Linked DNA regions of Homo sapiens: region 1 is linked to region 2. The links come from fine-mapping of genetic effects on gene expression. A gene starts in region 2. The other region holds a variant in brackets. All regions are shown on one strand. Distances are between the middles of the regions.

What was found. PIP is the estimated chance that this variant, and not a neighbour inherited with it, causes the effect.
Region 1: its variant is fine-mapped to the expression of TNFSF13 in whole blood (INTERVAL, PIP 0.94).

The regions. Positions count from the first base shown.
Region 1 is chr17:7,579,065-7,591,222 of GRCh38, forward strand. MPDU1 (mannose-P-dolichol utilization defect 1) reads left to right here and starts at 4,788. Exons shown (of 7, transcript NM_004870.4): 1 at 4,788-4,901; 2 at 6,668-6,733; 3 at 6,882-7,014; 4 at 7,628-7,713; 5 at 7,835-7,953; 6 at 8,097-8,207; 7 at 8,362-9,148. The coding sequence starts at 4,799. The coding sequence ends at 8,487. SOX15 (SRY-box transcription factor 15) reads right to left here and starts at 11,030. Exons shown (of 2, transcript NM_006942.2): 1 at 10,080-11,030; 2 at 9,114-9,482. The coding sequence starts at 10,612. The coding sequence ends at 9,314. MPDU1-AS1 (MPDU1 antisense RNA 1) reads right to left here and starts at 5,028. Exons shown (of 2, transcript NR_136402.2): 1 at 4,854-5,028; 2 at 2,910-3,099. It overlaps CD68 (CD68 molecule), which reads left to right and starts at 574. Exons shown (of 6, transcript NM_001251.3): 1 at 574-662; 2 at 746-1,263; 3 at 1,402-1,521; 4 at 1,647-1,719; 5 at 1,832-2,002; 6 at 2,314-3,047. The coding sequence starts at 614. The coding sequence ends at 2,447. RefSeq lists enhancers at 3,612-4,485, 4,437-4,486, 4,486-5,360, 4,597-5,126, 5,361-6,233 and 3 more. The variant TAA/T (reference allele first, on the strand shown) is at 7,375.
Region 2 is chr17:7,549,163-7,562,994 of GRCh38, forward strand. It overlaps TNFSF13 (TNF superfamily member 13), which reads left to right and starts at 9,588. Exons shown (of 6, transcript NM_003808.4): 1 at 9,588-10,135; 2 at 10,462-10,540; 3 at 10,684-10,731; 4 at 10,887-11,005; 5 at 11,188-11,326; 6 at 11,562-12,439. The coding sequence starts at 9,878. The coding sequence ends at 11,671. TNFSF12-TNFSF13 (TNFSF12-TNFSF13 readthrough) reads left to right here. Exons shown (of 11, transcript NM_172089.4): 1 at 1-150; 2 at 312-359; 3 at 958-1,033; 4 at 1,637-1,690; 5 at 1,781-1,816; 6 at 7,616-7,740; 7 at 10,462-10,540; 8 at 10,684-10,731; 9 at 10,887-11,005; 10 at 11,188-11,326; 11 at 11,562-12,439. The coding sequence ends at 11,671. TNFSF12 (TNF superfamily member 12) reads left to right here. Exons shown (of 7, transcript NM_003809.3): 1 at 1-150; 2 at 312-359; 3 at 958-1,033; 4 at 1,637-1,690; 5 at 1,781-1,816; 6 at 7,616-7,740; 7 at 7,937-8,719. The coding sequence ends at 8,188. It overlaps SENP3 (SUMO specific peptidase 3), which reads left to right and starts at 12,757. Exons shown (of 11, transcript NM_015670.6): 1 at 12,757-13,101. It also overlaps SENP3-EIF4A1. RefSeq lists silencers at 11-90, 12,821-12,900 and enhancers at 5,729-6,229, 8,338-9,131, 8,717-8,776, 9,587-9,636, 12,011-12,260 and 1 more.

The DNA.
Region 1 (12,158 bases), 29 kb after region 2:
CTCTGCTCCCCCCTTCCCCAGCAGATGGTTACCTTTGGGCTGTTGCTTTCTTGTCACCATCTGAGTTCTCAGACGCTGGAAAGCCATGTTCTCGGCTCTGTGAATGACAATGCTGACTGGAGTGCTGCCCCTCTGTAAAGGGCTGGGTGTGGATGGTCACAAGCCCCTCACATGCCTCAGCCAAGAGGAAGTAGTACAGGGGTCAGCCCAGAGGTCCAGGGGAAAGGAGTGGAAACCGATTTCCCCACCAAGGGAGGGGCCTGTACCTCAGCTGTTCCCATAGCTACTTGCCACAACTGCCAAGCAAGTTTCGCTGAGTTTGACACATGGATCCCTGTGGATCAACTGCCCTAGGACTCCGTTTGCACCCATGTGACACTGTTGACTTTGCCCTGATGAAGCAGGGCCAACAGTCCCCTAACTTAATTACAAAAACTAATGACTAAGAGAGAGGTGGCTAGAGCTGAGGCCCCTGAGTCAGGCTGTGGGTGGGATCATCTCCAGTACAGGAAGTGAGACTTTCATTTCCTCCTTTCCAAGAGAGGGCTGAGGGAGCAGGGTTGAGCAACTGGTGCAGACAGCCTAGCTGGACTTTGGGTGAGGCGGTTCAGCCATGAGGCTGGCTGTGCTTTTCTCGGGGGCCCTGCTGGGGCTACTGGCAGGTAAGGAGGAAGGAGGCTGAGGGGAGGGGGCCCCTGGGAGGGAGCCTGCCCTGGGTTGCTAACCATCTCCTCTCTGCCAAAAGCCCAGGGGACAGGGAATGACTGTCCTCACAAAAAATCAGCTACTTTGCTGCCATCCTTCACGGTGACACCCACGGTTACAGAGAGCACTGGAACAACCAGCCACAGGACTACCAAGAGCCACAAAACCACCACTCACAGGACAACCACCACAGGCACCACCAGCCACGGACCCACGACTGCCACTCACAACCCCACCACCACCAGCCATGGAAACGTCACAGTTCATCCAACAAGCAATAGCACTGCCACCAGCCAGGGACCCTCAACTGCCACTCACAGTCCTGCCACCACTAGTCATGGAAATGCCACGGTTCATCCAACAAGCAACAGCACTGCCACCAGCCCAGGATTCACCAGTTCTGCCCACCCAGAACCACCTCCACCCTCTCCGAGTCCTAGCCCAACCTCCAAGGAGACCATTGGAGACTACACGTGGACCAATGGTTCCCAGCCCTGTGTCCACCTCCAAGCCCAGATTCAGATTCGAGTCATGTACACAACCCAGGGTGGAGGAGAGGTAAAGCTAAAACTGGGGGATGAGAGGGGAGGGAGGCAGGACTGGATATAGGCTCAGAGGGAAGAAGGAAGAGGGGACAGGGAACCTTGGCCGGCATCGCATGCAGTCTTGTGACCTTCCAGTCTTTAACTTCCGCAGGCCTGGGGCATCTCTGTACTGAACCCCAACAAAACCAAGGTCCAGGGAAGCTGTGAGGGTGCCCATCCCCACCTGCTTCTCTCATTCCCCTATGGACACCTCAGCTTTGGATTCATGCAGGTATAGCCATGACCTCAGTCTCACCCCTCACTCAGCCTCCCGGCGCCCCTCCCCTCCCAATCCCACACGCTACTCCTTCCTCTGTGGAGAGGGATACCACCTGCGCCTTCCTCTTCGCCCCACAGGACCTCCAGCAGAAGGTTGTCTACCTGAGCTACATGGCGGTGGAGTACAATGTGTCCTTCCCCCACGCAGCACGTAAGTAACCTCCTTCCCTTTCTCATTGCTACCACTAGACGCCAGGGTTCCTGAAAGGACTAAGCTGGGGCCAGGGAGGTGGATAGGATCTGACCCTTCCTCACTCCTCCAGAGTGGACATTCTCGGCTCAGAATGCATCCCTTCGAGATCTCCAAGCACCCCTGGGGCAGAGCTTCAGTTGCAGCAACTCGAGCATCATTCTTTCACCAGCTGTCCACCTCGACCTGCTCTCCCTGAGGCTCCAGGCTGCTCAGCTGCCCCACACAGGGGTCTTTGGGCAAAGTAAGACCTACCTACTCCTTCCCTCCTAGAATCCTCCCACTGCACTGAAAACCCCTTCCCCAGGCCCATAAGCCACTCATCTCTCTTCTTAACCCCCCAAATCTCGCTCTCCCAGCTTGTCATGGCTACAGGGCAGCTTTCTTTCCATCCTCTACAAGACTCTGCCAGTTTCCCCCTTTTATCACTGCTGAGTCACTGCGGTGAGCTCCTCACCAATCTCCTACTCCCCAGCATCCCCCCATTCCCTCCTCCCACCTTTATCCCAACCAGCACGTCACTGCAAATACCTACCTGCCCTATCCTTCCGCCAGGTTTCTCCTGCCCCAGTGACCGGTCCATCTTGCTGCCTCTCATCATCGGCCTGATCCTTCTTGGCCTCCTCGCCCTGGTGCTTATTGCTTTCTGCATCATCCGGAGACGCCCATCCGCCTACCAGGCCCTCTGAGCATTTGCTTCAAACCCCAGGGCACTGAGGGGGTTGGGGTGTGGTGGGGGGGTACCCTTATTTCCTCGACACGCAACTGGCTCAAAGACAATGTTATTTTCCTTCCCTTTCTTGAAGAACAAAAAGAAAGCCGGGCATGACGGCTCATGCCTGTAATCCCAGCACTTTGGGAGGCTGAGGCAGGTGGATCACTGGAGGTCAGGAGTTTGAGACCAGCCTGGCCAACATGGTGAAACCCTGTCTCTACTAAAAATACAATTAGCCAGGTGTGGCGGCGTAATCCCAGCTGGCCTGTAATCCCAGCTACTTGGGAGGCTGAGGCAGAACTGCTTGAACCCAGGAGGTGGAGGTTGCAGTGAGCCGTCATCGCGCCACTAAGCCAAGATCGCGCCACTGCACTCCAGCCTGGGCGACAGAGCCAGACTGTCTCAAATAAATAAATATGAGATAATGCAGTCGGGAGAAGGGAGGGAGAGAATTTTATTAAATGTGACGAACTGCCCCCCCCCCCCCCCCAGCAGGAGAGCAGCAAAATTTATGCAAATCTTTGACGGGGTTTTCCTTGTCCTGCCAGGATTAAAAGCCATGAGTTTCTTGTCACATGCCTTTCTATGCCTTCCATGGCTGGGTCTCAGGGAGCCGGAAGCAGCTGCTGAGGAGGGATGAAAATGTCAGTGTGTGACGATGCCTCATGGGTTCACCCCCCAAAGCCTGGCACAGCTGGTGTTGGGTCTGCCGTGCCTCCCTTCCTTCCTCCTCTTGGGGCCACTGGCTGCTCCAGTTCCCCATCCGTGGCAAGCCGGTAGAGCCATTCATCCCCGCAGCCTTCTTCCTGACCCTCGTACAGTTTCAAATGCAGCAGACAGCCAAAGCAATGAGTGGGGGGCTGTGGAACTTCATTCCCAAAGGCAGCGCCAGTGGCTCCTGAGCAATGAGAATGTCCTGTCCTGTCCACCATATTCAAGGCCAGCAGAAGAGCCCGATTAAACCCTCGCAGCACCTGGCATGCTCCTATCCCACCTACAAGGGGTTGAATCAAGAAGGAGCAGTGGGTACTCTGACCTCCACTGGGGGCTCCTGGGAACAGCATGCCCCCCACACGGGGCCACCTGCCAAGCCTAACTTCATGCCCCCAGTACTTGAGATGAGGAGTGTCACTCTCAGGACAGCCAAGGTCCAGATTCCAGAAAGGACCTCCCAGATGGCCACAGCCTGCACCAGCAGTGAGCGCCAGTCCCACCCATTACAGCTGGCTACGGCGCAATCCCTGGGAGCCAGGATGAGCAGCACCCCCCAGCCGTAGGAGCCCCAGGAGGCTTCCGGCCTCCAAGGCCCAGAGACTGCCCCACAAGGGCAGCCCTCACCTGGCAGGGCCCCAGCAGCCCCACCTCTGCCTGCAGACATCCGTGTGACCTTGTAGACTTTGGAGGGGGGCCGCCAAAGGGCTGATCCACAGCGGAATGACGCACGGGTGGGCACCGTGGGTTGGCGTCCCGGCGGTCGGTAACGAAGCACAACGCCCCCACCAGGTAGTCCAAGGTGCCCTTTCCCAAGCAGCGCTGCAGGGTCCACTCGGCCTCGCCGAAGTCTCTGCCCAGCACGTGGTGCGCCCTCGGGCCAGCGGGGAGGGGGCGAATCCCGGGACTGCCTCGCCAGGCCTCGGCTCCCCGGAGACTCTTGGGGGTCTGGGCCCCAAGGGTGATTCAGGTGCTGCCCTTCCCCGACCTGGGCTCGCCTCCCCCACCTCCTCCTCTGCTTCACTGTCCCGGGCCCAGCAGTTGCCGGCGCACTCATGCTCCGAGGCCTGAGCCAACCGGAGGCGAGACAAGCACAGGGCCCTGCGCGCAACCCGGCACCTAAGGAGGCCTGCCCGGTGCAGACTCTCCTGCTCCCACCGGCGCCCTTCCCTCTAGAGACGCTGAGAGAACGGGAGCTAGTAGCGCCCCCACCCAACGCCACCTCGGAGACTCCGGCTCCTTCTCTCTCAACTTCGAACAATACAAAGTGTGCTAGGAGAAGACAAGATGGCGCCCAGCAGGAGGAGCGGAGAAAGGCAGGGGTGTAAATCTGGCTTCCAAACTGGAAGCGTCAACAAAGGCGTGGGAGGTCTAACCGCGCAGGCGTGCAGCTTCGGCAAGCTTTACAATTCCAACAGCGCGTCCAAAACGTGGTCCCTGACTGAGACTTATTTTACGCCACTAGAGTGAGGGTGGGTAGCGTCAGAAAGAGCGGGGCACGGGGCGGGCCAGCTTCGCCGCGGGAAAAGAACGGGAGGCGGAGTGTCCGCAGCGCGCACGCGCAACGAAAGTCAATGGCGGTCTGGAGAGACTGGCGGAAGCTAGCTTTGCAATATGGCGGCCGAGGCGGACGGACCGCTTAAACGGCTGCTCGTGCCGATTCTTTTACCTGAGAAATGCTACGACCAACTTTTCGTTCAGTGGGACTTGCTTCACGGTGAGTTTTATTCAGCATCCGATCCAAGTCCTACTCGAGTGACCGTGGGCCCTTAGTCCAAGCCTTGATCGGCGACTAAGTGACGGCAGTGACTGCCGCCATGCCGAGCTGGACGGAAGTCACTTCTGAGAAGGGCGGAAGTGTCTCGGGCTCCTTAGAGGGAGGACACCATATTAGTGCCAGTGGGGAAGTCACCGGGTGGAATTACTTCTTTGTGGAGTTTGTGCTGTAGCGACAATGAAAAACGAAGAGTCAACTTTTATAAAACAAAATAAAAATTAAGTCAAATCATGCCAACCTTTATTAGATCGCTAGCAGGGTTAAACTTAATTCAAAGCCCCTGATGAATCGGGCCTTCATTGCACCCCCAAAGGCTCCGCCACCCTGATTGCTTTCTTTCCAGCCTCCAGGTTTGCTCATAGTCTGATTTCGGAATAATTTGCCTCCCTTCCTTTTTCTGATTGCGAGACAGCTCCACAAGGGTCACCGTCAGACCGTTTGGGGAGCGTCAGTCTGCCCCTGTCAGTTCATGGTACCTCTCTTGAGCTCGTGGGGCACTTTGTTTTAGCCGCATTCATGACCCGTGAGAGTCAGACTCCCACTAGACCAAGTTCCTTGAGGGGAAGGCTTCAAGGCTAGAGAAGTTGTGGATGGCCAGGGCATAAAAGCAAGCCTTGAAAGGGTAAGGTTTAGTCCCTGAGTAGGGGCCAGGGACAGTCAGAGTGTTCAAGAAAGAGTGGTATGGGGCGGGCACGGTGGCTCACGCCTGTAATCCCAGCACTTTGGGAGGCCGAAGCGGGTGGATCACCTGAGGTCAGGCGTTCGAGACCAGCCTGGCCAATAGGGCGAAACCCCGCCTCTACTAAAAATACAAAAAATTAGCCGGGCGTTGTGGCAGGCGCCTGTAATCCCAGCTACTCGGGAGGCTGAGGCAGGAGAATCGCTTAAACCCGGGAGACAGAGGTTACAGTGAGCCAAGATCGTGCCATTGCACTCCAGCCTGGGCAACAAGAGTGAAACTCCGTCTCAAAATTAAAATAAGAAAAAAAAAATGGTATGAAGACTTGTCTTTGGAGAGAGAAGACATGTGAAATGGGGCACCCATTGGCCCAGAGAAGGGAAATAAAGGATCAGAGAGCTCTTGGGCATTTCTCAGCTTTATATGGGGAAGCAATGGAGAGCCGTGGAGGTCAAGCCAAGTTTGGGTGTTAATTTATAGGGAATGGAAGATTGGATGTGGGGGGTGGTAGGCATCGGAGAAAAGCTGTTTTGGAAAGTAACAGTCTGGGGCCCGGTGCGGTAGCTCGAGCTTATAATCCCAGCACTTTAAGGAGGCTGAGGCAGGTGGATCATCTGAGGTCAGGAGTTCGAGACCAGCCTGGCCAACATGGTGAAACCCTGTCTCTACTAAAAACACAAAAATTAACCGGGCATGGTGGTGTGTGCCTGTAATTCTAGCTACTTGGGAGGCTGAGACAAGAGAATTGCTTGAACCCAAGAGGCAGAGGCTGCAGTGGGCTGAGATTGGGCCACTGCACTCCAGCCTGGGTGACAGAGCAAGACTCTGTCTCCAAAAAAAAAAAAAAGTGTGGTGGTTTGGAGCAGGAAGGACCAGGACTTTCTCACTGCCCTCCGCCTCTCCTCCCCCCAAGACAATGCAAGACCCTGGTGTGGGTAAGGGGGCTCGGGGAGAGCCCACAGGAGCTTCAAGCCCTGGCCTGGGTTTCAGACATCTCCTGTCTGCTTACCCTTTTTTCTCTCCTCAGTCCCCTGCCTCAAGATTCTCCTCAGCAAAGGCCTGGGGCTGGGCATTGTGGCTGGCTCACTTCTAGGTATGTCTCTTATCTTTCTTTCCAGCTGTTGGGTTGGGGTGGAGGTGCTGAGAGGCCATCAACTGTGTGGGTGTTCGTTCTATAGCTGTTGTGTTGCATCCCAAAGAATGGAGAGTCCTCAGTCCTACTTTTCTCATCTTTCCCCTAGTAAAGCTGCCCCAGGTGTTTAAAATCCTGGGAGCCAAGAGTGCTGAAGGGTTGAGTCTCCAGTCTGTAATGCTGGAGCTAGTGGCATTGACTGGGACCATGGTCTACAGCATCACTAACAACTTCCCATTCAGGTGAGGGGCCCACCCTTCCACCCCAAGGGTAATACCCACAACTCTAATGGGGATTAAGGTGAAGGAGGTTACAAGGCAGCAAAGTGGCCGGGCCCAGTGGCTTGCACCTGTAACCCCAGCACTTTGGGAGGCCGAGGCGGGTGGATCACCTGAGGTCAGGAGTTCGAACTGGCCAACATGGTGAAACCCCGTCTCTACTAAAAATACAAAATTAGCTGGGTGTGGTGATGGGCACCTGTAATCCCAGCTACTTGGGAGGCTGAGGCAGGAGAATCACTTGAACCTGGGAGGCAGAGGTTGCAGTGAGCCAAGATTGCGCCACTGCACTCCAGCCTGGGCAACAAGAGCGAAACTCAGTCT[TAA/T]AAAAAAAAAAAAGGGACAAGGGGCTAGGAAAGTTTTAAGCCCTTTTAGAAACCTAATCATCACCAGTGGAGGTGATCTTGAGAAGGGGTGAGCATCCCGAGAATGGCCACGATTCAGAATGAGCCAGTCCCGTGTGGGGGCTGTAGAGAAGCGTGATCAGAGCATAGTGTCCCTGGATGGATGGGCTATGGAGGCTTTCCCTGCCTCTTTCTAGGCCCGCCTTTCTTCCTCCCAACTCTTGACTCTGCAGCTCTTGGGGTGAAGCCTTATTCCTGATGCTCCAGACGATCACCATCTGCTTCCTGGTCATGCACTACAGAGGACAGACTGTGAAAGGTGCTGGGGACTTACCCAAGAGCAGGCTGTGTGGTTCCTGGGAACCCTGCTGGGAACTCAGGTCTGGGAAAGCCAAATGATGTGGAGAGATTGACAAGGACTCCTGTCTCCCCACCCCTAGGTGTCGCTTTCCTCGCTTGCTACGGCCTGGTCCTGCTGGTGCTTCTCTCACCTCTGACGCCCTTGACTGTAGTCACCCTGCTCCAGGCCTCCAATGTGCCTGCTGTGGTGGTGGGGAGGGTGGGTACCAGGAGCAAGGGACAAGATGTTGTGGGGGCAGGGTGGGGGGGAAGAGTAGAAGATCAAAGTGTGGGGGTGTTGTACTTGGGGGAGCATGGGAAGAGCTCAGGTGACAGAGCCAAAGGTCTCAACTCCTCCCCTAGCTTCTCCAGGCAGCCACCAACTACCACAACGGGCACACAGGCCAGCTCTCAGCCATCACAGTCTTCCTGCTGTTTGGGGGCTCCCTGGCCCGAATCTTCACTTCCATTCAGGTGAGTGCAACATCTTCCTTCTAGAAGGCACTAAAACCTCGTCTTACTTCTCCCAGCTAAGGGCCAAAGCTGCCCCGTGAGGAACCTTTGTCCATAAGGGAACCTTTCTTGAGCTATGCTGAAGGGTAACCCTGGCTCTGTCTCTTGCAACCAGGAAACCGGAGATCCCCTGATGGCTGGGACCTTTGTGGTCTCCTCTCTCTGCAACGGCCTCATCGCCGCCCAGCTGCTCTTCTACTGGAATGCAAAGCCTCCCCACAAGCAGAAAAAGGCGCAGTAGAGCCAGCTACTGGAGTCATTCCGTTTCCACTCATTCACCCAACCTCAGGGTTCTCCCCATCTGAGCCAGCCTGCTGGTGTGACTTACTCATCCTCCATTCCTCTGCACTTGCAGACTTTCTGAGCCAGGGTTTTCTTTTAGTGGAAACAAATGGTTGATGGATCCAGATCCTTAGAAAAGGAGAGGATGGGGGTAGAGTCTCCCAAGCCAAAATTTTGACATTTGAGTGCTTTCGTAAGCCCTGTACATGTACTATTAATTCAGTCATTCAGCCAAGCCTCCTCCTCTAGCAGCAATTTCCAGCTGTGTAACACTATCCTGGGCAAATGTTTTACCCTGTCCTCCAGCCTCCCTGCTTCCCTTCTGGCCCTGGAAGACTGAGTCTGGACGGCAGAGTGGAGGGACTGGGAGGCTGTGGCTGCCTCCCTCCCTCAGCCCGGCTGGGACTGTCTCCCGGACCCCAGTGCTGGGGTGGGGGAAGGGGGACGGAGAATGACTCAGGCAGGGCCCCAGGGTGGGGTGAGGAGGTTCCTGCTCTGGCAGGTCTAGGCGGAAGGGAGTGGAGATGGGGCTGGTTCCTGCTGCAGTGAGGGGAACAGATGGGACAATAAAGACTGGAGACTCAGTTGAATAATACAAAACTGTTTAATACTACCAAAAATATAATTGTATGTTGTGCGGCTCTCCCTGGCTATCATGGGAGGACTGCAGGCTGCCTCTGAACTGTAGTCCAACAGGAGAAAGGGTTGACAGCCTGGGGTAGGGGATGCTGCTGGATTAAAAAAGGAGGATGAGGCCCGTCCCGTGAGGTCTGCGTCCATGAGGGTTAGAGGTGGGTTAGGGGCATGGGGGCACCAGCAAGGGGAGGGTTGTATGGAGTGGGAGAGCCAGGGGGCAGGTAGTGGGTATAGGTGGGCAGCAGTTCCCCCTGGAGCCTAGGGTCACTCTGAGGGAGGGAGCACGGTGAGGGGGCTTCCAGTTTGCAGTGGGAAGAGCTGCAGAGAGAAACAAGAGGTTAGAGGGCACTTCCCTGGGTTGGAGGTGAGTCTGGCCAGTTCTGGGCAGACAGGGTAGAGCGTGCCACCCACCCAGCCCTGGCTACCCAGCCCGCTGGGCGCAGCAGGCATGGAAGCCGACCCCGGGATGGAGAGCCCGCGGCCCTGTTGGGGCACGCTCGGGAGCGGGCTTGCGTGCTGCACGGCTGTTTTCCTCTTGGGGAGTCAGGCCAGGAAAGGGCAGAATGAGCTCGGCCTCTCCTTGCCCTGGGGGCTGGGAGAGGAAGCTGGGTCACACACAGGCCAGAAGCAGGGGGGAAACGGGGCATCTAACTAGGACACAGTCGCATCCAGGGGTCAGTCACCTGACCCTACAGGGCCCACCACCTTCAGACTGAGATGGAAACGCCCTCTGGGAGAACCCTGATCCGCCCCACCCTACACAGGCCCCGGAGGTACTGGGCCTGCGCCCGCCACACCTTGGCCGCGAGTGGCCTCTGCTTGGGTGGGCTCCCGTCCTCCGGCATCCGCCCCCACCAAGGCTCCAGAAGAGGGGCGCATGGGCCTCCGTCTTCGGCCCGCTTCCCAGGCACTCACCCATAGCTGCCAGGCAGGTAGGCTGTCGAGTAGCTGGGGGGTCTGTACCCAAAGCCTCTGCTCGGTTGGGTGGTCGCGTACCCCGGCCCCCAGAGCGGGCCGCCGCTGGCCAGGTTGCCTCTTCCCTGTCCGCAGCGGGAAGGTCCGGCGCCCGAGCTCTTGGCCTTGCGCCGAGGCCGGTACTTGTAGTCGGGGTAGTCGCGCAGGTGTCGGGCGCGGAGCCGCTTGGCCTCCTCCACGAAGGGCCGCTTCTCGTCCTCGTCCAGCAGCTTCCACTGCGCGCCCAGGCGCTTGGAGATCTCGGAGTTGTGCATCTTGGGGTTCTGCTGCGCCATCTGGCGGCGCTGAGCGGAGCTCCACACCATGAACGCGTTCATCGGCCGCTTCACCTTCTCCAGGGGCAGCGTCCCGGGGGCCGCGGGGCTCCCAGCGCCCTCCCGCTCCTGGGGTCCCGAAGATGAGGAGGCAGCAGCCGTGGCAGCCGGAGGCTCCAGGCTCCAGGCCTGGTCCTGTGAGGAGCCTGGTAGCGCCATGGGTTGGGAGAAGCCTTAAGAGGGCGTCCTGAATGCCCTCCCCTCAACGTGAAGCGTCGATCCTGAAAATGGAAAGGTCTTCCCAGTCTGGAGTCGTTGCCGAGGAACTTGGGTCCTTAAAAAGTGTATTTTATCCCCAAGCCCAGAGCTTAAACCGGAGCCTTTGCTTCCAACCTGTTCGGCACACTTTGGGGAGAGTCGAATGCAAAATCCGCTGTCTGGTGCCCCGGCACTGAAGAGGTGTTCTGAGGCCTACTGACTGGGGGACCCCCGGTCCCTCTCCCCGACCCGCAGCTGCGATCAGACCGACCTTCCGTGGAGGGGGTAAACCATAAACCCCTTTGTGGTCTCCGGAGTTCCGACAGCTGCCAGGCGCGGATAGGCCAGACCTCTCCCACCTGGGCTCAGCGTTTGTGGCAGGCGGGCCAGACCTGGGAACAGCTTTTAAAGACTGACTCCGCCCCTGTCCCTCCCATAAGACTGCACCTCCTTAAGGGCGCCAACATCCTCAGCCCGTAGGTAAACCCAGGTGTCCTGTTTGTCCCAGCCCCCAACACCCTCAGGGTGCCACGCCCCCCGCCCCCCCCACCCAAGACCTGATGTCAGGCCTTCCAGCCCGTTGCTGATTGCCTCCCCTCCCTGAAGCACAGGCAATTTAAAGCCAATTCTTTCCACAATGGGATCAAACACAGGGGGATGAAGTGCCCTCAGGGCCCGAGTTGTGCTGAGAGGAGCTTGGGAGCATCCCGGACCACCACCCCAACCCCTTTCCTGGTGCCTGTTGCTCCTCAAATCCCAGAACTGCCCCTGGGGCAAGAAAGGCCGAGGAGGGAGACCATTTTTGTTTCCTGAGTCATTCCAGCAGGTGCTTGGGCCGTGATTCAACCCCTTTCCCAAGTGAGAAAACTTAAGCCCTCCCAACTCCAGTCCCTAAACCTATATTTCTCCACTGCTATTGAATTATGGCAAGTTTTAGCTTCAGTCGTCCAAGTCATGAGGGGGGAGCCAGGAAACCCAGGACAACTCCCCAAGTTAAGAGGTCTGTGATGCGCATGCCGGAGAAAAAGCCTGGAGCCAGAACAGAACACCACCAAGAAGGCCGGACCCCGGGCTCCAGAGGCTGCTGTGAGGGAACCCTGCTCCCCACTCTGCCCAACGGCCCAGCCCAAGCCCCAGGCCTCAGGTAATCGGATTAAGCAGCCTGCCTTGGCTCTCAGCTTCTACAGGAACAGCTCCAGCTCTGAGCAGCCCTGCCTAGCCTGTGCTGTGACTCAGGGTATAGGAGTGGCCCAACTCCCTCTACCAGCAAACTTGGGGGAGGGGAGAAGCAACAAGGCACAAGCCCCCCTCCTCTGAACCAGGAGGGAGAACCTGGGCCTGGGGAGTTTAGGAATGTCAGGAATTCCCAGAAGTAAGACCATCTTTGGGACAAGAGACAATGAAGAGAAGTCAGATGTGGAGGAACAGAAAACAAGAGCCAGGGGCCAGGGCAGGTCAGTCCTAGAGAAACAAATGGACCAAACTGGGGACAAAGAAGGCACAGGAG
Region 2 (13,832 bases):
CGTCGGAGCCAGAGGCGGAGGGGGCGCCGGGGGGAGCCGGGCACCGCCCTGCTGGTCCCGCTCGCGCTGGGCCTGGGCCTGGCGCTGGCCTGCCTCGGCCTCCTGCTGGCCGTGGTCAGTTTGGGGAGCCGGGCATCGCTGTCCGCCCAGGTGAGGCCCCGCTGCGCACCCCTTCTTGGGCACATCAGGAGCTGAGACTGCAGAGGGGCCGCTGGGGGCCGCGTGGGCTGAAGGCAAGGGGAAGGGAGGATGGGTGGAGGGTGAGATGTCAGGTGGAGCGGCACAGGGTGACGCTCCCTCCTTCCCAGCAGGAGCCTGCCCAGGAGGAGCTGGTGGCAGAGGAGGACCAGGACCCGTCGGTGAGTGGGCGTGGGCGCGGTCTGCAGGCTGCTGGGGCATGGGAAGTGTGCACAGCCGAGGCTGCAGGTGTGTGCAGCTGTGCCAGCCGTACTCGAGGTGTGTGCAGGGTGTGTGTGAACACAGTGCGTGCATGGGTGCGTGTCTGCAGGGGTGTGTGTGCGTGGTGACAACTCTGTGTGAGGGGTTTGTGCTGGGGTTGTGCCACCTGAGTCTGAGGTGTTTATTGGCTGGGGGTGACGTGGTTGTATAAGATATGTGAGTCTGCGTGGAAGAGGGGTGCGGTTGTGTACAGGGTGTGTATCCTCTGTGCGTGGTGACTGGGTGCGGGCATGTGTGCAATGTGCCAATTGAATGCAGGGTCTGCGTTGGTTGTGTGTGTGGGTGGGAAAGTGTAGCTGGTCTAGAGGAAAGGGTGAGGACTGGGGCCTGACTCCCAGCTTCACCTTTGCCCGGGGCCCCAGCTGTAGTTGGCTGAGGGGCTTAATCTGTCCCTGACTTCTGTGTCTATTGCTGGCTGGTGGCTCTCCTGACAGGCCCCGTATGTCTCACTTTATATCTCTGGGAGTCTGTGGTTGAACCCTGCCCTAATTCCCCTAGGAACTGAATCCCCAGACAGAAGAAAGCCAGGATCCTGCGCCTTTCCTGAACCGACTAGTTCGGCCTCGCAGAAGTGGTGAGCATCCCTCTATCCCAACCTCAGGAAGCGGGCAGAGCAAAAACCATTATCCACAGGGAGAAACTGAGGCACGGAGGGTGAAAGGAGTTCAGAGTCATGCAGCTAACCAGCCAAGACTCAAACCTAGGGATTCTCGCCCTCCTCTGAAGCTCCTTCTGTCATATGGATGTGCTCCTTCAGACCCTACCCCAAACAGGAAGGCAGGGTGGCCATGAGTTAGAAGAACTACTGGGATCCTGATGGAGACTAGGCCTGGCAGTCAGAGGCCTGGGCCCCGGTAGGCAAAGAGACTTAGGAATGGGATGATGGGGTGGCCGGATGACCACGTGTCCAAGTCGGCATGCAGTTGTCCTGGCCCCCACCTGTTATCTCGGTGTGATTAATAGCAGCTTCCCGTTTTGCTCTCAGCAGTATCCCAGTGTGGATGACAAATTATAGTCACTCTACTTACTGAGGAAGATGAGGCCTGAGATTCTAAGGCCAGGAGTCTGGACAAGAATAAGGATGCCAGGGTTCCTGAGAGGGGAATGGGGCTGGGAGAGTTGCTCTGGGACCCCCACTAGGGCCCGCTTTGCTCATCTGTCTTTCCTTGATCCTCAGCACCTAAAGGCCGGAAAACACGGGCTCGAAGAGCGATCGCAGCCCATTATGAAGGTGGGTGATGGGTGAGCCATACCCAGGAGGAGAGGGGCAGGTGGCAGAGGGTCAGGGCAGGTCTCACCAGCCTTTTCCTGTACTTTACAGTTCATCCACGACCTGGACAGGACGGAGCGCAGGCAGGTGAGACCCCATCCCCCGACACAGCACTGGCCTCCTGGGAAAAGGGCCCTTGAAAACCTTTGACCTCCCACTCCCTTCCCGGCCATCAGTCTCAGAACCACAGAAGCCAGTTCATGAAGGTCTTGGTTCTCTCTGTGACCCAGGCGTGGGACCCCATGAAAGACCCCTACTCTTCCCCAGAACTCTGCCCAGTTCCCCCAGCAAATCACTGTCCCAGCTCTCTCCTTCAGCCCTCATTCTTCTCCAAGAAGCACTTTTCATTCTTTTTTCTTCTGTCTCCTCCATATTCCACGTTCTGATGATCTTTTTCTCTAAATGCTGCTAGTGTCTGCTCATCTTTTCCATTTCTACCCCACCCTCTACCTCAGCACCGTGACCTCAGAACCTCAAATCCAGCCTCTTGCTGCTTCCCCACTCCACACCCTCCCTACCCCTCCACTCCATCTGACCTGTGCTGCCATGCTGAGCCCCTAAACTTCACTTTTCTTGTGGTATTGGCTCTCTACATGGCTTCCAGTCTCTTCGTGGTCTGGTCTCAACCTAATTTCCCTGCACTCTTATGCTGTCTTCATGTTTGCTGCGCTGACACCCCTGCTCCCGGTGTGCCTCTTCTGGACTTTGCACATACCATCCCCCTCACCAGAATGTCTTTCCACTGTGAGAGGCAGGGAGGCATGAGGAGTGCTCAGCCGAGGGGTTCACAGCAGAGATGGTGAGAAGTGGATGGGTTCAGCCTGTGTCCTGAAGATATTACTGACTTATGGGTTGGAGGTGAAGAATAAAAGAAAGGGAGGAATCACAGATGACTTCTAGATTTTTTATTTTTTTTAAGACAGTCTCGCTCTGTCACCCAGGCTGGAGTGCAGTGGTGCAATCTCGGCTTACTGCAACCTCTGCCTCCCAGGTTCAAGAGATTCCCGTCTCAGCCTTCCAAGTAGCTGGGATTACAGGCGTGTGCCACCACGCCTGGCTAATTTTTGTATTTTTAGTAGAGATGGGGTTTTGCCATGTTTTCCAGGCTGGTCTCAAACTCTTGACCTCCAGTGATCTGCCCGCCTCGGCCTACCAAAGTGCTGGGATTACAGGCATGAGCCACTGCACCCAGCCAGCTTCTAGATTTTTAACTTGGGTATCTCTGGGAAGAATGATGCCATTTCCTAAGAAGGGATTGACCAAGGAATAAATAGGTTGGGAAGTATGTAAGATAATTATTAACGTTGAGAAGTCTAAAATAAACAAGCGGATAAATGACAATAAAGTAAATTCCAGAAATGGATGGCTGGACATTGTCGACTAGCTTAGGCTAGGTCAGGACGGATAAAGCCAGGAGTCATGGCCATATGGATGGCTTTTTTTTTTTTTTTTTTGAGACAGAGTCTCGCTCTGTCACCCAGGCTGGAGTGCAGTGGTTCGATCTTGGCTCACTGCAACATCTGCCTCCTGGGTCCAAGCGATTCTCCTGTCTCAGCCTCCCAAGTAGCTGAGATTATAGGCGGGTGCCACCACACCCAGCTCATTTTTGTATTTTTTAGTAGAGACAGGGTTTCACCGTGTTGGCCAGGCTGGTCTTGAACTCCTGATCTCAGGTGATCCGCCAGCCTCAGCCTCCCAAAGTGCTGGGATTACAGGTGTGAGCCCTTGTGCCCGGCCTATCGATGGCATTTAAAGCCACAGGATTGGGTGAGACGCCAGGAGAAAGAAGGGCCCCACGAATGAAGCCCTGAGACTCTTGGGCATCTTGAAGTGGAGCTGAGGGGAAAACCAGCAGAGACTGAAAAGAAGCTGGAGAGAGAGGAAGAAACCCAGGGAGGGTGGCATCCTGGATTCGGAGAAACCACTGTTTCAAGGAGGATGTGGCTGTCTGTGTTGAATGCAGCTGAGAGATCACATGAAATGAGAACAGAGAAATGATGGCTGGGTTTGGTAACGTGAAAGTCCTGCTGACCTTAAAGAGGGTGGTTTCAGTGGCATAGTTAGAACAGGAAGGCAGTGTGCATTGGGTTGAGAAGAAAATGAGAAATAAGGAACTGGAGGCAGGGACAACCTTTTTTTTTTTTTTTTTTTTTTTTTTTTTTTTTTTTTTTGTGACAGAGTTTCACTCTTGTCACCCAGGCTGGATCCAGTGCAATGGCACGATCTCGGCTGACCGTAACCTCCACCTCCCGGGTTCAAGCAATTCTCCTGCCTCAGCCTCCCCAGTAGCTGAGATTACAGGCATGCGCCACCACGCCTGGCTAATTTTGTATTTTTAGTAGAGACAGGGTTTCTCCATGTTGGTCAGGCTGGTCTCAAACTCCCGACCTCAGGTGTTCCACCCGCTTCGGCCTCCCAAAGTGCTGGGATTACAAGCATGAGCCACTGCACCCGGCCTAGGACAACCCTTTTTAGAAGTTTCTCTGTAACAAGGAGCAGAGAAATAGGCCAGTAGGTGGAGGGGTGTGTGGACCAAGGAAAAGTTTAGTTCTGTGAACAATACTATTTTCATCTGATCTAACATGTACTGAGGGCTTTCTTGAGATAGGCACTGTGTCTGGCACTTGTGTTTGGTCTTATCTAATCCTCACAACAGCCCTAAAAGGAAGATACTCTAATTACCTCCATTTTACAGATGGAGGTTACACAACTTGTCTGAGGCCATGAGATACTAAGTGGTGGAGCCAAGATTTGAACCCAGCTAGAATGTGCCTGTGTACTGGACATGGTCTGCATGAAAGGCGAGGTGGCTGGTGCAGGGGTGAGGGGTCCATGCAGGGGCCACATCCAAAAAGGGGAGAGGGAAGTTTCCAGAAAGAAGAGAGGACACATCTCCCACCATTACCAGAGGGTCAAAGGAGAACAAGAGACCAGGTGGGTTTGTAGATTTGCTGGGGGGAGATGAGGGAACCTTTGCTCGATGACTTCTAGGTCCTCTGGACAACTAGGGAGATGGAGACAGGAGATTTGAGGAGAAATGGTACAAAATCTCAACTTGCTGATTATGAAAGCAAGCTTCGTGGGGGAATGTAAGATTGCCAGGCAGGACGGAATGTCCAGGTGAGGTTTGTGGCTGGAGACAAGTGATATACCAGGCAAGCCCTCCGTGCTCCTGGGCACACCATGCCCTTAGGCTACAAGCAGCCTTTGCTTAGGCTGGCTTCGTAGCTAGGAATGCCCTCTCTTCTCTGCCCTCCCTACTCTTCATGCCCAGATCAGCCTTCCTCCCCTCTGTATAGACCACTTATTTTGGCAATTATCCAGACATTCATTCATTCATTGACTCAACAGGCATTGAAGACCTACTGTTTGCTAGGGGCCAGGCTAGGTGCCCACAGCAACTAATATCCAGACTCTTTTTTTTTTTTTTTTTTTTTTTTGAGATGGAGTCTCACTCTGTCGCCCAGGCTGGAGTGTAGTGGCGCGATCTCGGCTTACTGCAAGCTCCGCCTCCTGGGTTCATGCCATTCTCCTGCCTCAGCCTCCCAAGTAGCTGGGACTACAGGCGCCCGCCACCACGCCTGGCTAATTTTTTTTTATTTTTTAGTAGAGACGGGGTTTCACCGTGTTAGCCAGGATGGTCTCGATCTCCTGACCTCGTGATCCACCCAACTCGGCCTCCCAAAGTGCTGGGATTACAGGCGTGAGCCACCGCGCCCAGCCGGTCAGACCCATTTTTTTTTTTGAGATGGAGTTTTGCTCTTGTTGCCCCAGCTGGAGTGCAGTGGCGCCATCTCGGCTCACTGCAGCCTTCTCGGGTTCAAGTGATTCTCCTGCCTCAGTCTCCCGAGTAGCTGGGACTACAGGCGCCTGCCACCACGCCTGGCTAATTTTTTTTTTATGTTTTAGTAGAGACGGGGTTTCACCGTGTTAGCCAGGAGCGTCTCGATCTCCTGACCTCGTGATCCACCCACCTTGGCCTCCCAAGGTGCTGGGATTACAGGCGTGAGCCACTGTGCCCAGCCTCAGACCAACTCTTAAGGAGTCACTGTCTAGGAGAGGAAACAAGCATATAAATTTGTAATTACAGGAACATACAAAAAAAATTAGCCAGGTTTGGTGGCACATGCCTGTAATCCCAGCTACTCAGGAGGCTGAAGCATGAGAATCACTTGAACCCGGGAGGCGGAGGCTGCAGTGAGCCGAGATTGTGCCACTGCACTCCAGCCTGGGTGACAAGAGTGAGACTCCATCTCAAAAAAAAATTTGTAATTACAGTGGAATATGACAAGAACAATAATAAAAGTGGCCAAGATACCTGGCAACACAGGGGAAGACAGACATGGCTGTGGAGTCAGGGATTCTCTCCCTGCATCGCAAGGTGCCGCTGGGCCTTGAAGCAGGAGCGTAAGACAAGACAGGCAAGGGGTCAAGAATGGTGGGTGCAAGCAGAAGCAGCCCCTGGGGCAAAAGCCCCGGGTTTGCCCAGAGCATGATGAGGCTGGGGGACTCTAAGTTCAGCGTGGCAGAAGCAGAAAGTGCTAGAGGAGCGAGATGGGGATGAGGCTGGAGACAGAAGCCAGGCCACACGGTGGCATGTGGGAACTATTCTGAGGTGAGCCATCGGAAGGAGGAAGGCGAGGCGAGGCGGGCTTACGTCTGCATCTTAGAGACTCATTCTGTGGCTTTGTGTAGGGAATAAACTGGAGGAAGCCAGAATGGAAACAGGGAATGCTGTGAAAACCAGACAGAGGCACCAGATGGGGGAGAGAGGGGAGAGAGCTATTTAGGAGGCAGGATAGATAGGAACTGGTGATCGATTAATGATGTAGGTAAAGGAGAGGGAGGCTTGAATATCCCCCTGGTGGCAAAACCAGAAGCCAAATGTGGAAAACAGACAGTAAAGCAAGAGTGGGATGAGGGGGGTCAGCTCAGTGTTGGTTGAGATGAGTTTGAGGGGCTATTGCTGTTCAGATGGTGCAGTTGGCAGGGTAAGGAAGGGAAGGAAACTTCAGGGCTGGAGACTCTGCAGAGCACAGGTTGTGGGAACCCATTGGTGGAAATAAAAATGCCCAGTGAGCGTTTTTTTTGTTTTTTTTTTTTTTTGGAGACAGAGTCTAGCTCTGTTGCCCAGGCTGGAGTGCAGTGGCATGATCTTGGTTCACTGCAACCTCCCCATCCCAGGTTCAAGTAATTCTCCTGCCTCAGCCTCCCATGTAGCTAGGATTACAGGTGCCTGCCACCATGCCCTGCTAGTTTTTGTATTTTTAGTAGAGACGGGGTTTCACCTTGTTGGCCAGGCTGGTCTCGAACTCCCGACCTCAGGTGATCCGCCCACCTTGGCCTCTCAAAATGCCGGGATGACAGGCGTGAGCCACTGCACCTGGCTGAGCATGATGTTTTCAAGGCACATCTGTGCCATAGTGTGTATCAGTACTTCACTCTTTTTATGGCCAAATAATATTCCATTATATGGATAGACATTTTGTTGATGGACAATTGGGTTTCATTTTATTATTTTTAGTTGTACTAATTCAGATAATGTATGTTTACATCCTCCATATAAAAGAAGCAAATAATATAGATATCCATGAAGTAAAACATTAAATCCCCTCACGCTTCTCCTTCAGTTCTACTCTTCTCCCCAGAAGTGACTGCAGGTGACAATCTGCCCTGAATGTCTCTGGCCATATACATTAGATTTTTTCACATAACTTCCTAGTCAACTATGGGCATCATAGGGGATGGGTCCTCCCTTGCCCGGGGTGATCTATGTGTCTTCTGGGTAAAGTGGGCGCCGAATGTTCATATGCTCAATGGATCCCTGGGGAGTGTGGGGGAGTCCTGTAGAGAGACGTTTCCTTATCTCTGAGCATCCGTGTTCAGGTGTGGACGGGACAGTGAGTGGCTGGGAGGAAGCCAGAATCAACAGCTCCAGCCCTCTGCGCTACAACCGCCAGATCGGGGAGTTTATAGTCACCCGGGCTGGGCTCTACTACCTGTACTGTCAGGTAAGCCCCATCTGGCTGCATGGGTAACGCAGTAAGAGAGTGGCGAAGGGTTTGCCAGGAGAGTGGGGGACAAGCTACAGGGCTGGGAGGGTGAGTTGGGGTTTGGGTGGGATGGGATGCCTGCGTCGCTGAGGAAATTGGAAATTGAGGCGAGGGCAGGCAGAGGCCTGGACTCGGCCTGTTGTCCCCACCCCAGGTGCACTTTGATGAGGGGAAGGCTGTCTACCTGAAGCTGGACTTGCTGGTGGATGGTGTGCTGGCCCTGCGCTGCCTGGAGGAATTCTCAGCCACTGCGGCGAGTTCCCTCGGGCCCCAGCTCCGCCTCTGCCAGGTGTCTGGGCTGTTGGCCCTGCGGCCAGGGTCCTCCCTGCGGATCCGCACCCTCCCCTGGGCCCATCTCAAGGCTGCCCCCTTCCTCACCTACTTCGGACTCTTCCAGGTTCACTGAGGGGCCCTGGTCTCCCCGCAGTCGTCCCAGGCTGCCGGCTCCCCTCGACAGCTCTCTGGGCACCCGGTCCCCTCTGCCCCACCCTCAGCCGCTCTTTGCTCCAGACCTGCCCCTCCCTCTAGAGGCTGCCTGGGCCTGTTCACGTGTTTTCCATCCCACATAAATACAGTATTCCCACTCTTATCTTACAACTCCCCCACCGCCCACTCTCCACCTCACTAGCTCCCCAATCCCTGACCCTTTGAGGCCCCCAGTGATCTCGACTCCCCCCTGGCCACAGACCCCCAGGGCATTGTGTTCACTGTACTCTGTGGGCAAGGATGGGTCCAGAAGACCCCACTTCAGGCACTAAGAGGGGCTGGACCTGGCGGCAGGAAGCCAAAGAGACTGGGCCTAGGCCAGGAGTTCCCAAATGTGAGGGGCGAGAAACAAGACAAGCTCCTCCCTTGAGAATTCCCTGTGGATTTTTAAAACAGATATTATTTTTATTATTATTGTGACAAAATGTTGATAAATGGATATTAAATAGAATAAGTCATAGTCTCTCTCTTTATTGGGGCTCAGGGGACACTCTCAGGGTAGCTGGGGGCCACGTGAAGGGGGGCGTTGCGGAGCGGCACAGCTGGAACTCCGGGATGATGTTCAGGCTTGGGGGCGGGGACCTCCATGCCTCCAGCCCCCAGGTGGGAGCAGAGGTAGGAAGGCACACTGCCCAGGAAAAAAATCAATCCTCCGCCCAAGGTACAGCAGAAGCGGCCTCCTTGGCCTAGGAGGCAGACTTCCTCCTGCGGGGAAATCCCTTCCTGGCTGGGAGGAGCAGGGGCCCTTCCTCTTGGTGGCCTCGGACATTCAGCAGGTGCTGGCACAGGCCCTGGCTGGGAGGTGGGGCGGGCAGGAGCCAGCCTGGAGGAGGGGCTGAGAGTCAGCAGGCACACGGGAACCCGGAACCCTGTGTGCTGGGGAGGAATCCCGCAGTGGCCGGGGGGCTTGAGGCCGCTGCTTTGTCTCTTCGTCCAGAGCCTTATGTAAGAGCTTTTCTCGGGAAACAGGAAGTCCTGCTTGCCAATTTCAGCACAGGGAGTAGTGCAGGCCTTATTCCAACACACCCGGCCCAGCCTTAACCCCAGAACTCAGCCAGTTTCTTGCTTCCGTGCCCCTGGTTCTCCTCCCCATCGAGCCCACCCCTCCTTTCCCACCTTCAGTCACCCCTAGTGAACTGCCCCAGCGATCTCTGCTGTGCTTGACCCCGAGGGTCTTCCACCCTCGCCCTGACCCTGGACACTGCCCAGCTTGGCCCCCCATCCTGCTCCTGGCACAATGCCCTCTAGCCAGCCAACCTTCCCTCCCCCAACCCTGGGGCCGCCCCAGGGTTCCTGCGCACTGCCTGTTCCTCCTGGGTGTCACTGGCAGCCCTGTCCTTCCTAGAGGGACTGGAACCTAATTCTCCTGAGGCTGAGGGAGGGTGGAGGGTCTCAAGGCAACGCTGGCCCCACGACGGAGTGCCAGGAGCACTAACAGTACCCTTAGCTTGCTTTCCTCCTCCCTCCTTTTTATTTTCAAGTTCCTTTTTATTTCTCCTTGCGTAACAACCTTCTTCCCTTCTGCACCACTGCCCGTACCCTTACCCGCCCCGCCACCTCCTTGCTACCCCACTCTTGAAACCACAGCTGTTGGCAGGGTCCCCAGCTCATGCCAGCCTCATCTCCTTTCTTGCTAGCCCCCAAAGGGCCTCCAGGCAACATGGGGGGCCCAGTCAGAGAGCCGGCACTCTCAGTTGCCCTCTGGTTGAGTTGGGGGGCAGCTCTGGGGGCCGTGGCTTGTGCCATGGCTCTGCTGACCCAACAAACAGAGCTGCAGAGCCTCAGGAGAGAGGTGAGCCGGCTGCAGGGGACAGGAGGCCCCTCCCAGAATGGGGAAGGGTATCCCTGGCAGAGTCTCCCGGAGCAGGTGAGTGAGGGGAGGAGGGTGTCTGGGAGAGGATGGTTAGCATGGGGGGTCTCTGGGCCTCCTGGTCTGCAAAGTTTCAAGGGGGTGCAAGAGAGGGTCTCCGGTTTGGAAGTCAGGGGCGCGGCCATTCCAGGAAAGGAAACTGTTAAAGGTTAATGCTTCTCATACCTAACAAATCCTGGAGGGCAGCCAGCACCAACACTCAGGGTGCTGGGAAAAGGTGCGTGAGAGATCTGAGGCATCTCGGGGGCAGGGGAGGGCTGGGAAGGCAGGCTGGCTGGGACCCTCGCATCTTAACCTAACCTTGACCCTCTTTCCATGAGCAGAGTTCCGATGCCCTGGAAGCCTGGGAGAATGGGGAGAGATCCCGGAAAAGGAGAGCAGTGCTCACCCAAAAACAGAAGAGTGAGGCTTCCAGGGTGCAGCAGGGGTGGGAGGTGATCAAGCAGCGTGGGGATTGTAAGCCCGAGTCAGGGTGAGGGTGGAGGCTGCCAACAGCACAACGGGGGAAAGTGGATGCGGCTGAGATTCCCTCCTTCTCTCCTCAGAGCAGCACTCTGTCCTGCACCTGGTTCCCATTAACGCCACCTCCAAGGGTGAGCACTATTTTAAATAATGGCTTTGGGGAGGGGCAATAACCAGGAACTCGGGCTGGCACTTGGGCTCAAGGGGTCCTTATAGGTGAAAGGGAAAGAACCAAAAAGCACCTGAGAGTGCCAAGAAGTCCTGACCGACACACTCTCACCTCCAGATGACTCCGATGTGACAGAGGTGATGTGGCAACCAGCTCTTAGGCGTGGGAGAGGCCTACAGGCCCAAGGATATGGTGTCCGAATCCAGGATGCTGGAGTTTATCTGCTGTATAGCCAGGTAACCCCAGCCACACTCTGAGCTTCACAGAGGGCCTCTTTGGCCCCCTACTGAGGGTTCCTGACCCCTCTATTCATACCAAACCCAGCAGACCCTTCTTTCTTCCCTCGTTAGCGCTCCTGAGGCCTCCCAGAACTGAGCCAGGCCATCCTGTTTTCTTCAACATCTCCCTTCCCTGCCAGGTCCTGTTTCAAGACGTGACTTTCACCATGGGTCAGGTGGTGTCTCGAGAAGGCCAAGGAAGGCAGGAGACTCTATTCCGATGTATAAGAAGTATGCCCTCCCACCCGGACCGGGCCTACAACAGCTGCTATAGCGCAGGTGAGAGCCGTGTGGGCAGCCGAAAGCAGGACGTCTCTGACCGGGGGTAGCAGTGCAGGGAGCTACCGCTAGGAGGGAGGTTGGAAACCTAAACAGAGGCGGGTCTGAGGAGTGAAGTGCAGAATGCCGGGTCCTTACAGGAGGCAGAGGAACGGTGGAGCTGGAGAAGGCAGGGGGAAACAGGGCATCTGGATGGCTGTGCTTCACTGCGAATCTACTTTCTCTCTTTTCTCAGGTGTCTTCCATTTACACCAAGGGGATATTCTGAGTGTCATAATTCCCCGGGCAAGGGCGAAACTTAACCTCTCTCCACATGGAACCTTCCTGGGGTTTGTGAAACTGTGATTGTGTTATAAAAAGTGGCTCCCAGCTTGGAAGACCAGGGTGGGTACATACTGGAGACAGCCAAGAGCTGAGTATATAAAGGAGAGGGAATGTGCAGGAACAGAGGCGTCTTCCTGGGTTTGGCTCCCCGTTCCTCACTTTTCCCTTTTCATTCCCACCCCCTAGACTTTGATTTTACGGATATCTTGCTTCTGTTCCCCATGGAGCTCCGAATTCTTGCGTGTGTGTAGATGAGGGGCGGGGGACGGGCGCCAGGCATTGTCCAGACCTGGTCGGGGCCCACTGGAAGCATCCAGAACAGCACCACCATCTAGCGGCCGCTCGAGGGAAGCACCCGCCGGTTGGCCGAAGTCCACGAAGCCGCCCTCTGCTAGGGAAAACCCCTGGTTCTCCATGCCACACCTCTCTCCAGGTGCCCTCTGCCTCTTCACCCCACAAGAAGCCTTATCCTACGTCCTTCTCTCCATCTATCGGACCCCAGTTTCCATCACTATCTCCAGAGATGTAGCTATTATGCGCCCGTCTACAGGGGGTGCCCGACGATGACGGTGCCTTCGCAGTCAAATTACTCTTCGGGTCCCAAGGTTTGGCTTTCACGCGCTCCATTGCCCCGGCGTGGCAGGCCATTCCAAGCCCTTCCGGGCTGGAACTGGTGTCGGAGGAGCCTCGGGTGTATCGTACGCCCTGGTGTTGGTGTTGCCTCACTCCTCTGAGCTCTTCTTTCTGATCAAGCCCTGCTTAAAGTTAAATAAAATAGAATGAATGATACCCCGGCTCCATTTCCCCCACTGCCTCGCCTCAGCCCGGTCCTCGTACGGGGATCTCCCGCCCTCCTGGCTCTCCTGTGGCGCGCCCCCCGCCGGATCAAGGTACTGGGGATGCCGCTAGGGTCAGGCCCGCGAGCGCGGAGAAGACAGAGCGCGGCGCAAAAGGGAAAGTGGCGGGGCCGCCACGCGCGGCCGGGCGGCGGATGTGCGCAGGCGCAGCCTCGCGTAGCGCTCTGGGCTGGCCAGTCCCGTGGCGCCGGCGTCCTCGGGTAGACGGGACCGCGCGCTTGGTGGCCGCGCCGGCGCTCTTCGCCGGGTGTGACGTACTAATCGTGCGCCACCGCTGCCGGTGGGCCCGGGGCTCGCGGGAGGGGAAGGAGGAGGGGGGGAGGAGTGGCGGCGGCGGCGGTGGCGCTGGTGGCGGCGGTGGCGGAGGTGGAGGTGGAGGTGGAAGCTGAAGCTGAAGCAGAGCCAGAGGCGGCGCGGCGGGGTGCTCGGCGGCGCGGCACGCGGCCCAGAAGCGTTGGAATCCTGAATTGAGACGGCTGCGCCTAAAGACAGCAGGAGTGGCGGGGCCGCCGCCGTCGCCGGAGAGATGAGCCGGGAAGCTTGAGGCCGGAGACGCCCGCCTTCGGGCCCGTCCGCCCGGCTTCCCCGCTCCCGGTGAGGACGCCCCCTCCCCTCCCCCCAGCCCTGCCTTGGCCTCTCCCATTCCTGGGCCTCGCTCCCACCGAACCGGGGCCCAGAGGCCCGCATAGGGGCTTCTTAAGGCCCGTGTGCGCCGAGCCATCCAAGCTCGTGGGACCGGACTGGTGCCGGGTTGCATTCTGGTCCCCGAGGATGAAGTAGGAGGGGGCTGGGCCGGCCTGGCTTGTGCGCTCCGTTCTGTCCCAGCGTCTTGATTCGGTTCTCTTTAAGTTTCCTTCAAAGTTCTTCCCCGTTTATCAGCCTCTGCCCCCTGAACCATATCCCTGGCATCTGCACTTGAGATGACCGCAGCCTTCCCATGCCCCCCGTTCATCCAGGGTGTTAGAGAACTGTCTCCCATTCCAGTCCAGTTTCCACGTGCAAGTTGCATTCTCCTCAAGTACCACGGTTATCATGTCCCTGAGGAAAGAAACTGCCCTTGTTGGGCCCTCAAAGGACAGCCCTGGTGGTATTAAAATAAAGACGTAGAACCTGGCAGTGCTATTGGGTTTGGCCTGGTGATCTTAGAAATAAGATCTCTGAGGCCTGCTGCTTAGCCATTTTCCCTTGTCTCTGGACTGGGGAGAGATGATGGCACAGACCCTGAAGGGCCCCTTGTGGACCGCGTTAACCGGGAAGATCTTAAGTTAGGAGTTTTGCGTTTTTTCCTCTTTTCTTTATTTGCATCTGAATCCAGAGGAGGCATG